Regions from separate parts of the Homo sapiens genome. Here region 1 is linked to region 2. Evidence: fine-mapped expression QTL. Tissue or cell type: left ventricle. Region 2 holds a variant in brackets; the other region holds the start of a gene. All regions are shown on one strand. Distances are from middle to middle.

What was found. PIP is the estimated chance that this variant, and not a neighbour inherited with it, causes the effect.
Region 1: it holds the start of GEM, and the variant in region 2 is fine-mapped to the expression of GEM in left ventricle (GTEx, PIP above 0.99).

What each region holds. Positions count from the first base shown.
Region 1 is chr8:94,259,039-94,267,224 of GRCh38, forward strand. GEM (GTP binding protein overexpressed in skeletal muscle) reads right to left here and starts at 3,281. Exons shown (of 5, transcript NM_005261.4): 1 at 3,052-3,281; 2 at 1,135-1,474. The coding sequence starts at 1,465. RefSeq lists silencers at 1,238-1,381, 2,523-2,592.
Region 2 is chr8:94,216,002-94,224,187 of GRCh38, forward strand. It overlaps a transcript of CDH17 not described here. Among named protein-coding and RNA genes, the nearest start is that of CDH17, 12 kb to the left of the region's middle. The variant G/GC (reference allele first, on the strand shown) is at 3,581.

The sequences.
Region 1 (8,186 bases), 43 kb after region 2:
TGTACAACACTGGCCCTATTTCTCCCTTTACTCTTCTGAGATTCCAGGAGTGAGGAGAGAAATCAATGTTACAACAATGAGTCATTATTTATAGCCCAGTTCCTGAGCTGCCTCATGAGGCAGTGAACTCCTTGACACTGAGACAATCAAGAAGAATAAAACCTCCAGATGAGATGGGCTGTGGGTAGTGAGGAATAACATTAATATGCATCAATGCAGGGGAGAACTGAGTCATCGCTAAGACACCTCCCTACTCTGTGATTCAGTTGTGAGTCGCGACAGAACACAGACCATGTGACTTGGGGAAACACTGAGCAGTGCTTCCTTTATTTCTGTAGCTGCAAATAGGGACATATAACTACCCTGGTCGCATACGCTCAGACTGAAGCTGTGGCTGAAAGACACTTTATGGATGGCATTGGCTATCAGGATCCTCATATTACTTAGCAGAACATAGGGCTGTGCTTTACCCCTAGCTGAAGAATACATGCATTTTGAGATAATGTCACCTCAAAACAGTTTTGGAAATAGGCCAGGCTCCAATCAATAAATAGATGAAATTGTACAGGGAAAATTGTCTTGAAAAGCTGTCAGACTCTATAGAAAGTTTCATTGTTATACTTCACATTTTAAAAAATTATTATGCTATTTCAAATACAGATTTTGAACTATTTAACACCCACAAAACTTTCTAATATTGGTGGAAGCAAACTGATCAAGCCATCCTAACAGCTTTTCCAACTGGCTTGTTTTAGGTATAACCATGGAAAAAGGCTGTGTCTATACTGAGTTCCGGGAAGAATGTTCAAGTCAGAGTCAGCAGAAGTCAAGTGGGGCGCTGACCCTCTGGCTCTGCCCTCTCTAATCAGCCTTCCCCAACCCATTTAGAATTGGAATCTGAAGAATTCCCTTTCTGGCCCAGGATCAACAGATTTTGGTCCTGTCTACAAGCATTTTCATTTTCTTGCCCGAAAGCCTGTGCTTGGGCTTTTCTAGAGACTCAGCTCCCCCATCAATTGTCCAAAATGCCTAACTTCAGCTCCCAACTCTGTGGGTAAATAAGTCACCCACCCTCACTCTTTCTTCCTGGGCCACCCCTGGTGGAAAGAAGCCCACTGGGGCTGGGACACCTACCTCCCAGCACCTCGCAGTCGCTGTCCATGCTGTCATGCACACCTGCAAAGATGTTGGCCAGAGTGGACTTGCCCACCCCCTGCTCCCCTATGAGCACCACTCGGTAGTAGGTGTTCCCTGACTCAGAGGAGATGACTGAGTCTGTGGAGTCAGAGGACCAGCTTCGGCGGCAGTGGTCCTCAGGGGTAGCAGAATGGCGGTTGCGGTGGCTGTACTGGTGGGGCTCTTTCTGGACCATCAGATGCCTGCCATCAGCTGGGATGCTCCAGCGCTGCTGCTGTGGCTGCATGCCCACAGTGCCCTGGCGCATGGTGACATTATTCAGAGTCATCGTTGAGTCCTGGGGAGCAAAGCAGCCAAGATGGCAGCATTAGTAAGCATGAGTGAGAGCTCCGCTCAAATACATGGTCAGTCATCAGTAATATTTTATTAGATGAGATGAGAAGCAAGTATCCCTAACATAAAGACCACCAATTAAACAGTCCCCCAAACCCCAACAAGACAGGCTTTCAACTGGACACACACATGCTGCCCACACTGTCAGTAACCAGCTCCTCAGGCAGACTATCATTTGCATGGGAAAACAAATACGGTTAACATCACCCACTGCCCATGGGCTTCCCCCTTCCTCAAAGCAGACTTGGATGAAAGAAGAGCTGCACTCAGAGCTGGCACAAAGGCAGCTGGAAAGAACCAGCAGACTCCAAAGATGGCTTGAAAAGCAACAAGTTAATGTTGCTGGGGACCAGCTGGTCAGGTTAGCTGCTCTTGTCTAAACTTGGCTCTTAATTGCACCAGTGTCCAGCAGGTTTTGTGCCTCAGTGGGAAACACGTGGCAATGACATCACCCTCCCCTCCCCTGCCCACTGCAACCCTGGCTGGACTGGACAGGCACTTATTGGAACTTCCATGTTTAGTAAAGTTGCCTTGATGCTCTCCAGCTGCCTGGAGAGCATCCACCTGCCATTATTGGGGGTAGGGGGGAAATTTTCTGTTTAAAGTTTATGCCTCAGCTGTGCCCTCTTACCCACAGATACCACTTTTAAAACATCCCGGCTCCAAACCTAGACACCCTGGCAGAGAAATGACCTGCTCATGTTCAGACCTATGAAATTTGCAGAGAAAGTGCCTCATTCTTAAAAAACCACATCCATTCTCAAGAGTTCTTTAATTCAACTCAGATTCCTTTTTTGAGTCAGGGTCTTGCTCTGTCACCCAGGCTGGAGTGCAGTGGCACGATCATAGCTCACTGTAGCTAGCCTCCAACTGCCAGGCTCAAGAGATCCTCCACTTCAGCCTCCCAAGTAGCTGGGACTACAGACCTGCACTACCACGTCCACTAGTTTTTTTATTTTTATTTTTATTTTTTGGTAGAGACAGTGGCCTCACTATGTTGCCCAGGCTGGTCTCGAACTCCTGGGGTCAAGTGATCCTCCTGCCTCGGCTTCCGAAAGTGCTGAGATCACAGGCCTGAGCCACCATTCTCAGATCCCCTTCTTGAAGCAAATCAGAAGGCTGAAGACTCCCCTAAATGATATTCAACAACTTCTCTACAACTTTCCCTTTGCAGACTGCCTCCCCTAGCCGGGAGGTCTGTTTTTCCGGCTACTGGTGATAAAGTATAAGTACTTACGTTGCAATCAGCAAGATGCACAAACACTCCTCTCCCACCCTCACCCCCACACTCCGTACCCCAACATCTCGCCACTAACCAGGACGACCAGCCGGTTTTTTAGTCTCAAAAGCAGCACCTCAGTTGGCAGACTTACATTCAAACAACAAATACATAAAGCATCATTAAGGGCTGCCCTCTCTGACCACTCGATCTGTAGAGGGAGGTGACCCTTCTACCGAATTGAACTAAGGAACCTGCTGATGAGAAGCGACATCCTTTGCACTTGAAGCTCTGACCCCTACCAGAAAATCCCAGTGCTGAGCGCACGTTCCAGGGGTTCTTTTCTCAACTTCGAAAGTTCTGCGGGCTGGGAAACTCCCACTCTCTCCCTTCTCCGTCTCGGGCCGTCCCCCTTACTTGGCTCGGCCGGATCGGCGTCGGGGCGTCAGCGTATCGCGTGGGTCCGCGCTGGGATACCCGGGCCAACGAGCGGGGAGTGCTGCGCTGTGCCCGCCGTCCTTGCCCGCCGCCTGCAGCCGCCGCGGCCGGGCGGTTTATAACCAGCCCAGCCGACCCGCCGCGGGGCTTTTCCGTGACGTCAGCGCCCCCGCCGGGAGGGGGCGGCTCTGCAGCAAACTCGGAGTTGCAGCCACTTGGCTAAATCAGTTACTCGCAGTCATGTGACCCCTTCTCTCTCCATTTAAAAAATAATGACAGTTCAATCCTGGGCCTCCTTTATTTTGTTTTATTTTCTTTTTACCAGATGAACACAGGAAAATGGAAAAATACACTAAGTGACACTTAATCGTCCTTCCCAGCAAAGCACTTGCGAGCTGTCGGGATAAAGGATGGAAGGGAGAGGCAGGTTTGAGTTGAGAACTCAGTTTTGCCAAGAAAACAGAGATCAACCTGGAATGCGCAGAGACTTTAGCCTCCAGGATGAGACTGCAGCCACCTTGAATAGCCAAGGCTTGTTTTAACCACATCTTCTGCAACGAAGACAGCCTTGTCACCTTCTTCTGGATAGGGGGAAGCAGATGGAGCCCCACAAGGCTTTGTTTCCCTTCTCTGGCAAGGACCCAGAGAGAAGGGGCCAGAAAGAGGTGAGGAAAGAGGACAAGACCTTGAAAAGGGCAGTTTGGAAAAACAATTTAATTGAGGATCCAAGCAGATTGTGCTAAATATTGCTGGCCCTCCTGCTCTGGGCCAGAATGCTGAGGCTCCTCAATCAGGGAATTTAATCAGCATCCCAATCAGCAGCATCTCTGTACCAGGCTCCCTGGCAAGGCTACGCCTTGGGCATGAGCCAATACAGCCTGGCCATGGGGAGGAGCACTGAGACCAACACCCCTGTAAGAGACTCCTGTGAACAAAGGGCACAGGATAATAACTACTACTACCATTTATTAAGTACCTCTGAGGACCTCTGCTTAGTAGGTACTGTTAGGCCTCCTGGGACCTTAATCCTTACTATACTTCTGCAAGGTGGCTCTATTTCTACCCTCATTGTATGGAGGAGGAAGATAACATAGGGCCAGAGAATTTGCCCAAGGTCACACCGCTGGTATAAGTGGCAGGGTCAGGACTCAAAGCCTGGTTTTCCTGAGTCTCTGCACTGCACCACCAAGTGAAGGATTTCAATGACCTCTTTCTGGGGACATGGGTATTTCCCAGATGCTGTGTTTAGAGATGATGCTGGCCTCTCCAACATATCTGCTTTTCCAGCCAGCTTCAACTCTGGGTTGGCTGGTGGCTCCGGGAAGCAGCCAAAGGCACCAGCATCTATTGAAGCAGCTGGACTCTGCTGTGATTAGAGTCAATTCACAGTTATCCTGCAGGCATTTATCTGCTTTGAGAATTAGCTACATGACCAGCTGCTGAGACCTGCCAGGTCCCAAGCTAGCAAAGGTGGAATCCATAGAGTAATGAAAACTTAGAATTCCTTTAGTCTCAGGTGTTGTGGCCCCAATCTCCTACTTATCTTATACATAAGAAACCTGAGACCCAGAGAGGAGATGACCGCTTAGGACATGACAGAACTGGAACTACAACCTGGGGATCATAATTCTCTGGATGCCCTTTGCTTCTGTCAAGTTTTTCTTCTGGGTTTCGCTGACAGGAAGTGGCTACAGATGTGGGGAAAGGAAAAGGAGAGGAGATGGGGGGTGGGGGAGATCATCTCCAAGAGTATATCACTGACTCCATTCTAAAACACATGTAATTGATGAATAATCCATGTTTCAAAATGATCCATGCTTTTTCCATACTGACACTCCTACTCTGTCAACTGGTCTCAACAGAAACATCATAGGAGTAAAAACTAAGAAGAAATCAGTTTATAAGCATATGATATAGTTCCTCAGTTCTACTTTTGCCGATTGATAAGAATCTAATACTTCACATTTATAAAAACCTAATTCTGGCCAGGCACAGTGGCTCACGCCTGTAATCCTAGCACTTTGGGAGGCTGAGGTGGGTGGATCACGAGGTCAGGAGTTCAAGACCAGCCTGGCCAACGTAATGAAACCCTGTCTCTACTAAAAATACAAAAAAATAGCCGGGCATGGTGGTGGATGCCTGTAATCCCAGCTACTCAGGAGGCTGAGGCGGGAGAATCGCTTGAACCTGGGAGGCAGAGGTTGCAGTGAGCCGAGATCGTGCCATTGCACTCCAGCCTGGGCGACACAGCAAGACTCCATCTCAAAACAAACAAACAAAACAAACAAAAAAAAAACTAATTCCATACCTAGGCAATATCTACTATGAACTATTTGTCATTGGTATATGTGAAACATACAAAAGAAAATGAACTCCAGGGACTGGGGAAAGGGAAGGGGCACACAGCAATGTTGTGTTTGGATAATAGAACAATTTTTAAATTTTTTAAATTGTCTGTCTCACAAGAAGCCACATGAACACAAACAAGAACACTACTTAAGAAGAGTCTTGACTAAAAGTTAAGTTTGAGTAATTATTTAGAGAAAAATCATAGTTATACTTCACAAAAAGCACATCTGAGCGCCAAATCTCATCTAGCCAAGTCTCAGATCCCTCGACCAGGATTCCAGCTCACTGGGATCATCTTGAGGGTGTGGAGCTGGAGAGAAAAGGTAGAATCAGGGCATTTGGGTAAGTGGCAAGTTTTGAAGAGGAAAAATTGGCAGAAAGTTGTCTTTTGTTCTATGAATTATTCTCTCCATATTCTTTCTGCCAGCATTTGAAGGCTTCCTCAGTTTCTAGCTACAATGAGTAGCTCAAGAGTATAGCAAAGAGGCAGAATTCAAAGCAACAAAAATAACTCACATTTACTTACCAAAATGCATGCCTATCTCAGCTAATCCGCATCACCCCTACAGTTACCCATATTCTATGGGGAAAGGTGCTGAGGAATGAGGGTTAAATAACCAGCCCAGGGTCACAGGGTGGTTAGGTGGCAGATGTGTACTCTCTGGGGCCACAGTCTTAACTGCTGTTCTATTTAGAGTAGGGGATATACGTCAGTCCTCATTCCCATACTAGCCCCACCTTGGCCTACCACCTTCCTAAAACCCTCAAAGGAGAAGTTTTTGTCTGATTGGCCAAAGCCCATGACCTTCACTGGGCCACCTGTTCCTAGTGGGCCGAGTTACTCTACTTAAAGGCATGAGCCATCCTTTCCTCTCTCTTTTCTCCACATCCCTGCCCTAGGGCAGAAGGTGAAGTTGGGGTCTGTTTGGGGACTCTGCCTACTACTCTGCCACTGTCACTGTCACTTAGCATGTAGACTTGAGCAACCAGTTCCCATGATTTCAAATAGGATGAGAAAGGAAGGAAAGACGTAGGGAAAGAATAGGACCTTTGACCAGGGTTGTAAATAAGGGCATCTGGGACTTGCACAGACATTAAGATAATATTACTTTGAATACCATGTCTTGAAAACTCTAAGAGAGGAGAGATGATGGGTAGGCTCAGGATCTGTACATGCCTGGGTCCATTATACTATTCTAAAAGCTGTAATTCTATTCCAAAAGCAACAGAATCTAAAAGCAACAGAATCATCTATACTATAGACTTACTACAACCAAGGTCATGCTTGCCCAAGCCATCAAGTAAATGCTACTCAGTGGTAAAGGGGACACCATGCAAACGTTCTCCCTTTCCCAACAAGGAGGTAGATTATAGACTAAACACTGAGTAAGAAATAAATTAAATGGGTTTTTTCCTATTATTTTTTAAATGTTTCTTTTTTTCTTTCTTTCTTTCTTTTTGTATGTTTTTTGAGAGACAGAATCTTGCTATGTTGCCCAGGCTGGCCTCACCACTCCCAGGCTCAAGTGATCCTCCAGCTTCAGCCTCCTGAGTTACTGGGACTATAGGTGCTGGGCTCTGTTTTGCATTTTAATGCCTTTAGGCAAAGCATGCCGGCCAGTTTCCCACAATCCTTACTAATCCTTAATATATTCTACTCCAAGCAGTTTCATTTATACTATCTACCTGGCCCCTAAAGGCATTTGACTTTGGGATCTTTGCCTGGGCTGAAAGAAATGGTAGGGGATTTAACATCAGAAAAGGAGGTTCAAATCCAGGCCTTTCCTCTTATGCATGTGATGCTGGGGATGTCACCAAGCCCCAGAGGCCTTGGCTTCTGCTGTTCTGAGGACTAAAGAGCTATGGAATGTGGAAGTGCTTGTTAACCACGGAGCACTATGTCAATAAGAGTGATTATGATTATGACGCAGGAGCCAAGGATTGAAGCTTAGCCACCTGCCCTCGGTTTTGCTGCCTCTTAAGGCTCCAGCTAAATTAATCCAGCAGAATTCAAGACACATGGGGTGGAGGGAGGATGGGCGAGAAATATGCTCATATTAGATGTTACTAGGAAAATATCATTAGCAAGGAGGTTGTTGTAAACAAGAAGATGGAGGCCAAATACCCAGCACACATCATAGGTCTCCACCAGCCACAAAAACATTCAGGGGAGGAGCTGGGTGGGAAGCAATTTGCAAAGTGTCTGAGCACAAAAAGAACCACCCACCAACTTTGGGAAGTCTAAAGAAGGAAAGAATTACTATATGGAAAATCATTGCTTTAGAGAAGGGGGATAAAAAAGCCTTCAATCGCAAATTCAAGAGAGGCCTGATTACAAGAAAATAAAGACAGAAGAAAAGATGGCTAAGAATAACGTGTCAGCATCCAGAGGCCTGTGAGATCCAGATGGACAGCCCCTCCAGCTGCATCCTCCCCAGACCAGCCCCCAGCTTCTCATCAGACTCCTGCTGAGCAGATTGAATTTTCCATTGAAAAAATTCTTAGCTATCACCCCTCCTTCCCTCCATTGGCCCAGCCTGCTGCAGGCCTGGAGAGTGCCAGTGGCAGAGATAGCTAGAGCCCTTCCTTCTAAAAGCTTGCAGAGTAAGTGCAGAATGTATCTTAGTAGGCTGGGAGGAGCCTCCTAAAG
Region 2 (8,186 bases):
TAATGGCCCCTCAGCCCCTCTGATAGTGTCTCAGCCCAGGCAGTTCAGCCCTAGATAAACTTGACTCAACTGCCTGCCTGAACGAAGACTATTTTCTTTCTACATGACTAAACCTAGTAACTCAGGAGACAAGGAGGCCAAATTCTCCTCCCTTTAGTTTTCCCACTCAGGATTACATTGGGCCTGGTCTCAGGAACAATCCAGGAGTTTCTGGAAAAGCCATGTTATCTTCAAACTAGAATTTTCCAATAGCTACAGGAGGAAACACAGGAAATGAAAGCTCACATCTGCAATCTGTGTAATTCCCTTGCCTTGGGTGGTCCACAGGAGCAGCCCACAGTGCAGTGGAGGAGGAGGGGAGAACAGAAGCCCTGCTTGGGAGAGACCATCTGGCTCTATCAATGAGCCTCAGCCAGCGTCAGATCCCTTCTAAGGAGGCCTGGGAGGAGGCCGGCGGAGGACCCTCACTTCCTTGCTGGAGTCTCACTTAGCCCACATGCTCCTGCTTTAAACCTGATTAGATAGACCAGCTTCTCAAAAAGGGAGGGCTCCAGAGGGTTTGTTTTTTTTTTTTTTTTAATTCTCAGATCTTCCCAAGTCTGCTCTCCTAAGTATGAGAAACAAAGGGAATTGCCTAGAACCAGGACTATATCTAAAGGGATTTACAGGACAGAGGTAGCTGTACTTCTTCTAAGTTACCACTTTATACTAAAGAAAATCAATGGTAGTTAACTACACAATACTTGACTAGAAGTTATCCAAACTCCACTCCTCTTCTTTATCTCTAAAGAGAGGTTTTTCTCAGTACAAATAAGTTTTTAGTACAGGGGTTCTCAACGCTGGCCGCATAGAGCCACTGGGATTGTGATTTGACTGGTCTTTGGTGAAGCCTGGCAGCAGTCATTCTTAAAGTTTCCCTTGGTTCCAACGTGCAGCCGAGGTTGAGAACTGCTGGCTTGGTGTCTACCCTCTACCAAGCAATTTTGCTCTGCATCTCAATCTTCACAGCAACACGGGAAGGTATTTTTACTACTTTACAAATAAATAAATACAGGAGCAAAGAAGATACAAATCGATTCTCTCAGATTTGAATCCGGATCTGATTCAAAAAATAATAAGAATAAAGCCTGAGCTGCTACCCTCGGCAAAGCTCCCGTAGCAGCCGCTGAGTGAGCCTCCTGCCCAGCTCTACTTACCTCCCAGGAGCCCCAATCAGACAAGCGGGGGTGGGGGGACTCAAGTCCACTAAGCAGATTGATCAACTCAGATCCACAGCCAAAATATCATACTTCCACCGTGATTACATGCTCACCAGTCGCCCCTCCCACTCGATCTTTCTGAGCTTTATATGGTTGGGAATCCTGCCTTCGCTGAAAAGCCTGCTTAGGTAGCATTTTCATGAACCAGTAATACCCACCACTTTATCCCCTATAGCGTTTCCCGCCACAGCTCCGCTCCAGCTGATATCCCTTTATATTTCCTCCCCATTTCCCTTGTTACAGAGCAATAGCACCACCTGACCCCCGTTACAGAGCAATAGCACCACCTGACCCCCTCAAATGCAGCTGCTCTCTTTCAGCTGTCCAGGAGGCAGGCATCCTCTCCCACAGCTACTGAGGAAGTGGTTAACTTCAGTGTAGCTCGGCTCAACTCAGACAAGCCAGGGGTAGCCAACCGGTACTATTCAGAGTTGTGCATAATGCCAGGAGTACCTTGCCCCCAGCAATAACTGAATTATCTCGATTCAGTGGACTTTCTAAAATGTACCCTCCCTCAATATTGAAAATCCTCTTCAGGACCAGGGTAGAAAGTGGCTCCCAATACAGCAATGCTGACCTGCTGATCTTTGTTCTGGAATTTAACATGGTCTGTAAGGACCTTGGACTTTTTGAAATCATTTTTTTTATATCGCTGGAATACAGGTTCCTTTTCTTTTCTGGTCACAAAGCAAAGAAGTATAGAAAGAATTACCAAAAGTAAAAGTAAAAAAATAAAAAATAAAAAAAAGAATTACCAGGGACCCAGTCCCATGGGACTCAGTGTCAATGGCATATTTCCTGAGCTTGACATGGGCAATGAGAACTTATTTCTCCCAATCTTGATTCAGCTCCCTAATAATTAGGCTGGTATTCTTTAAGGCATATTGGTTTTAAGGTAGACACACCTGACAGCAATAACTTAAGCATAATCTGAGCATGCTCCTGCAGGGCAGATGCACCTCAATGTGTGTTCTGAGCTCGGGAATCCGGGAGTGGTCAACGCGGAGATTGGTTCCTTGTCTATGAGGAACATCTGAGCATCTCCCACCGCACCTTCCACCCTCCGCCCCCATCCCATGGAACATGGGCCATACTGGGGATGGAGGTCCTTTGTTTTGGGTTTAATGAAGGTTGCCAGATGGAGGTTGTTAGGGGAGGGTGTTAAGTGAAAATGTTGTATAAACTGATGCTTTTTGCAAGTAGTTGCACTTCTCCTGTATAGCCCACTGCTGCTGGACCCTGTCCCCCTGCATGTGAACCCGCAGTAAAATCCCATGTCTCATTTGCTGGCTCTGGGGCTCTTCAGCCTCTTGAATCTTGTGCCAGAGGTTTTCGAACCCTGAATCCCTATAAGATTAATAGGGGTTGGGCATAACACTATTTAAGACCAAAAATTTAGAGACTGGCAAATTGGGACTGAATCCCAATTCCAAGGCTATTCTTTGGCCTTGATATTCTTCACCAATATGGGTTTGGGAATTCTAATGTGGACCCTCGATATCACACCCCTCCTCTGTCTGTTTGGGCTCATAAATATAATGGCCCAACCAAGGAAGTAAAAACTAAGGTGGATTACAGGTCTTTGTTAGGGAGATCTGAACCCTGTTTGTCTAAAAACGGTACCAAGTTATTTCAGTACATGTTGAAGGTATAAAGAGGAGATTCCAACATTTTCTATAAATTACTTTTCTAAAGAGCCTTTCAGCTCTACTTGCCCTGACTTAAAAGTATTTTTCATTCATCTTCCACCCACACTCAGACCAGAAACTGATAGCAGTTAGCCTTATCTGTCACAAGCCTAAGCAACTGGTGGCCGATCACCCTATCTCGTGCTATTACCTAGGCCGTTAGGAAGCTAAAATTAAAACCTGGTGTCATTAACATACCAGACCAAATACAGAGAAAGCCACAGAAAGTCAAGTTCAGATCCTCTTACAAGTTTCTATTTTAAAAAATAAAATACAGCAAGCTTCAGTGAGAGACCTTAAGATGGGTCACTAGACATCACAGTGAACATGATTTTGTCGTACTATTAATATTTCTCAGCAAATGGCTTTGGGAAGCACGGTGGGAACTCTGATTCCTGTAGGTAGCCACTAAATCATTGCCCTGACTTTATAATTCTGCAGCAATGTCTTCATATTTTGTGAAGTCTAGAACCCTTCGCAGCGGGAAACTTGCACACTTATAGCCGAATTGCATAGAGTCTATCTAAAGTTAGTTTAAAGACTCACAGGTTACTTTGCCACCAGAAATGTTCATGTATTGGATTTAGGGGTGGGCTCAATTTTCACTTAACTATTTAATTAAACAGTTACTTT[G/GC]TGACCTCTAGTTAGCTGACGTCTGTTCTGTGCCAGGCACTGGGCAAAGTGTTTGGCTTATGTTATCTCTAATGTGCACAAATCTGAAAGGCAAGTCAAATCGCCAATCCCCATTTACAGTTGAGGAATCTGAGGCTCAGGGAAGTCAAATATCTTGCTCAAGTTCACATAGCTGGCAGGTGACAAAGCCAGGATTTGAATCAGGCATGCTGACTCACAACCGTTGCCACTGTGAAGGCTGTTCCTAATCTATGCGATGTCCTAGTCACCACCTCTACCCCGACACCGTGGCCATGCCCTTCTCTCATCACTTGCCCTTGTGGTGGCTTTACTGCTACCAACCAGAAGAGGCCTTCGTAGGTAACTGACTCTGTTTTACAACAGTCTAAAAAAGAATTGGAAGAATTTATGCCAAAACTAAAATCGTTGCTTGGGGCAAACTCTAATATTCAAGTAGGCAATGTTAAACCAGCCCTATTAACTCTTATGCTCTTATCCCTCTGCGGCATATTTACATAAATTCCCCCAGACGGCACTGTCTAAATACATTGGTCTCCATTTCAGACGCTGCCTGGAGTCACTAAGTTTCTCCTAAGATTGGGGAAGGCAACTGGTGATCACTTTCCTTAGCTTTTCCAGGCTTCAATCATGTTTGCCATGGGCTGTGGATCATGAGGAAAAGTTTCTCTTCTAGAAATCCTCCAGCTAATAAACGAAGAGAGGGCAATAAAATTAAAATATTATCATTTCACAAACCTCTATGGAAGTAAGTCTAGGCAAGGGTCATCCATGGCTGCTACCTCACAGAAAGAGAGACAGCTGGTCATTGTGTGCCTCCTCCTAGATATGAAATGCTACTTAGGAAGGATTCTTGCCGAAAGCATTGTATCTGGATCAAATCAAACCAATTCTAGATTCACCTAACAATTGTGAAATTGCCAGAATCAAAATGGAGTTGGCACTGTTAAAAATCAAAACAAACCCTGACAAATAGGCCTGTGGAAGACCATGAAGACAGGTTCTCATGCTTGTATGCCTAATAACAAAACTATCACAAAAGCCTCAAAAACCACAATCTTGCACAATGGCCACTGCAACCTTACACAAAAAATACTTCTACAAGGATATCTGCCCAGCAACTGCCTGTTCAACTGCATTGGGATCACCCTTGTTATTAATCTTTATGGTCAAGTATAATCATTTCCAAATAATTATGTAATCCTCCTCATTTTTTCCTTTAAAAACCTTTGTCTTTCTTTACCTCCCTGAATCCATGCATAGTTTACTATGGCAGGCATATTCCCATTGCAATGATCTATACCCAAATAAATATTTTATTTTAGAAAGCATTTCTCTGTCATTCAGGTTGACAATATAAGAGGAAATCTCTTTGCAGTGATTGTGTAGAAGATATGGAGACATTCTCTGTATTGGCATTTTTCTATGTCCGCCCTTGATGAAAGCAAAGGACGGAACATTAAAGGGCAACTGAGTAAAGACTTTCCATAGCAGTGTTAGTTAATGAGATCCATCCAGGATATAGCTTTCCGGTAATCAATTTGATTCCAGAATAGCATAAGAGACCTAGAAGAGTACACAGTCAGATACCAAAATTTACCTAGAAAAATCTTAGACTGTTGTCCAAGCGTGGTGGCTCATGCCTGTAATGCCAGCAATTTGGGAGGCTGAGGCAGGCAGATGATGAAGTCAAGAGATTGAGACCATCCTGGCCAACATGGTGAAACCTCGTCTCTACTAATAATATAAAAAATTAGCTGGCCGTGGTGGTGCACGCCTATAGTCCCAGCTACTTGGGAGGCTGAGGCAGGAGGATCGCTTGAACCCGGGAGGCAGAGGTTGCAGTGAGCTGAGATTGTGCCACTGCACTCCAGCCTGACCACAGAGCGAGACTTTGTCTCAAAAAACAAAAACAAAAACAAAAAGAAATCTTACACTGTTTTCAGAAATCACACTTTTAGCAATGATATCAATATTAATTATTCTAAAATATATATAGTAAGGCAAGTAAGTAATTATGTTAATATTGTCTGCAACCAAGATTTTAGGTAGAAGAGAGAAGATAGATAAATATAAAATCAAAGGAGCTAAATTTTAAAAAACGCTGTGATACTAAATTCAAGTTCAAAATATTAGTATGAACTCACGATGCATTTTCTTTAAAGTAGTGTTTTCAATTCTGTCCACTGAAAAAAGCTGGGAACAATGACCAATTCTTAAGCAATGGGCAGCCCTAAAGCCAGCTTATAATTTTTTTTTTTTTTTTTTTTGAGACAGAGTTTCACTCTTGTTGCCCAGGCTGGGGGGTGCAGTGGCACAATCTCAGCTCACCACAACCTCCGCCTCCCAGGTTCAAGTGATTCTCCTGCCTCAGCCTCCCAAGTAGCTGGGATTACAGACATGTGCCACCACACCCAGCTAATTTTTGTATTTTTAGTAAAGACGGGGTTTCACCATGTTGGTCAGGCTAGTCTCAAACTCCTGACCTAGTGATCCGCCTGCCTTAGCCTCCCAAAATGCTGGGCCTGGCCCTATAATTTTGAAAAATCATTGGAAAATGATATTTAAAGGAATCAAGCCTCCTTGGAGAAATTGCTGACCATAGTTCTGGGGCAGGAAAAGTACATGTGCCTAGCACATTTGACATACCAGACACCAAGGAATTTACTAAAAACTGTGATTGTTTCGAAGCATTTAGAAGCCAAAATTAAGTGGCTATCACTTGGAAAGTATGGAAAAATTTGAGAACAAGTAAGAACAATGACTTTGATGAATTTAAACAAATCAAATGTGTTAAAATCCATGAGATCATAATTACACTTGACAGCAAATACTCACTGACCACCTTTAGTGGATGCCAGGGAACCACATTATAAACATGAAAATACGGGGCAGGAATCAAGGGTTTTGCCTGTCCTTGCTGTATAAACAGTGTATCAGGGTAATTTTTCAAGGTAAAGTTTCTCTTTATGTAAGTCTCTCAAATAATAAATTAAGGAATGATAGAATTAAAATATTGCCATTTTGCAACCCCTACTGAAATAATGGATGTAAACAAAGACCATCAGCAGCTGCTGCATCACAGAGACAACTGGTCCGTATGCGTCTCCTAAGAGAAGTATGCGATACTTCTAATGGAGGATTCTTGGCAAATAAGTTGGACTTGAATCAGCTCAAACTTCCAATTCTAGAGTCTAGCATTTATAAGAAACGCTGGTCAGAAAAAAACGGTTGCAGATGAAATGCACTTCAGGGTTGCAATCAGCAAAATACCAAATGTGAGAAACTGCAGGACAATGCCTCTGCTTCTTCCATATATAAACTGAAAAACAAAGGAGAGAAGAAACCTGTACATTAAAAAAAAAATTCAAAAGAATGTTGAAACAAACCAACTCTCAAAAAATAAAAAAGGAAAAAAATAATACAATTAGAGAAATTTGAATGTCATCTATTTTTAAGTATGATAATGGTTATGTGGTTTTAGTTTTTAAGAAGAGTTCTTATCATTTACCAATACATATGGACATCGTTATGGACAAAATGGTTTGCTGCCTTGGATCTGCCTCAAAAGAATCCATTTGGGTTGAACGGGGTGGCTAGTGTGGTGTGGGGAAGCAGAGATAAAATAAGACTGGGCATGAGCTGATTCTTCCCTACGCTGGGTGATGGCATACGGGGGTTCATTAACTCATTACATTATTCTCTCTACTTTTGCTTATGTTTTAAATTTTCTATTAAAAATATCAAAGTGTGAAAAATCACACACACACACACACAAACACACATCCTGCTCTTGTTTTTGAACCGAGGGTCTGGGTCAATAATTGGGTGAATGGTGATTTTTATAAAATAACAAAGTAATTTACCTCCTTAAGGATAAAAATGAACATGTTCTCACTGGAAAGCTGCCCAAGAAGAGACTACTCAACCATAGTACCATGTGCTGAATTTTCTTTATTTCACATTCTTGATCTGGCCTTACAGAAAATTTGAGTGAACATTTCTGAATTAGAAGGAAAAATTTGGAAGTCGAAGTACTAAAATGAGTATTGAAGCATGAGAACTGTTCTACCTTGTCAGCATCTGAATAGTGTAAAATCGCTCCTCTGAGCTGGGATTCACGTCCAGGTGGGTGCAAAGTGAAACAGAAATAGCACATGCAGGCACAAAGCCAGTGGCCTGGGAGTGAGGGGGGATGGAGGGAAAATGGGAAGATTGTCCACTTGAGACTAAGCCTCCAGAATCTGCAGGAATTTTGGGGATCATTGCAGCATAATTTAAAGTTCTAGAGAGTTTTGTCTGAATCTCCATTGGTCAGGGAAATCTGAGCTGATGACAAGGTTACAAACAATTATACCACATGCCATTTGTAAATTATCATTCCAGACGATGTACTAAGCAGTTTACATTAATTGCCTCGTTGAACCTTTATAACTCTCTTGCCCCAACAACCATGACACAGATATTATCATCACATTTTGACAGAAAAGAAGAAGGTCCAGGGAAATTGAGTAACTTATTCAAGGTCACACAGCTGGTGAGTGATGTAGCTTGTCCTCTAACGTAGGGCAGCCTGCCTGCAAAACTC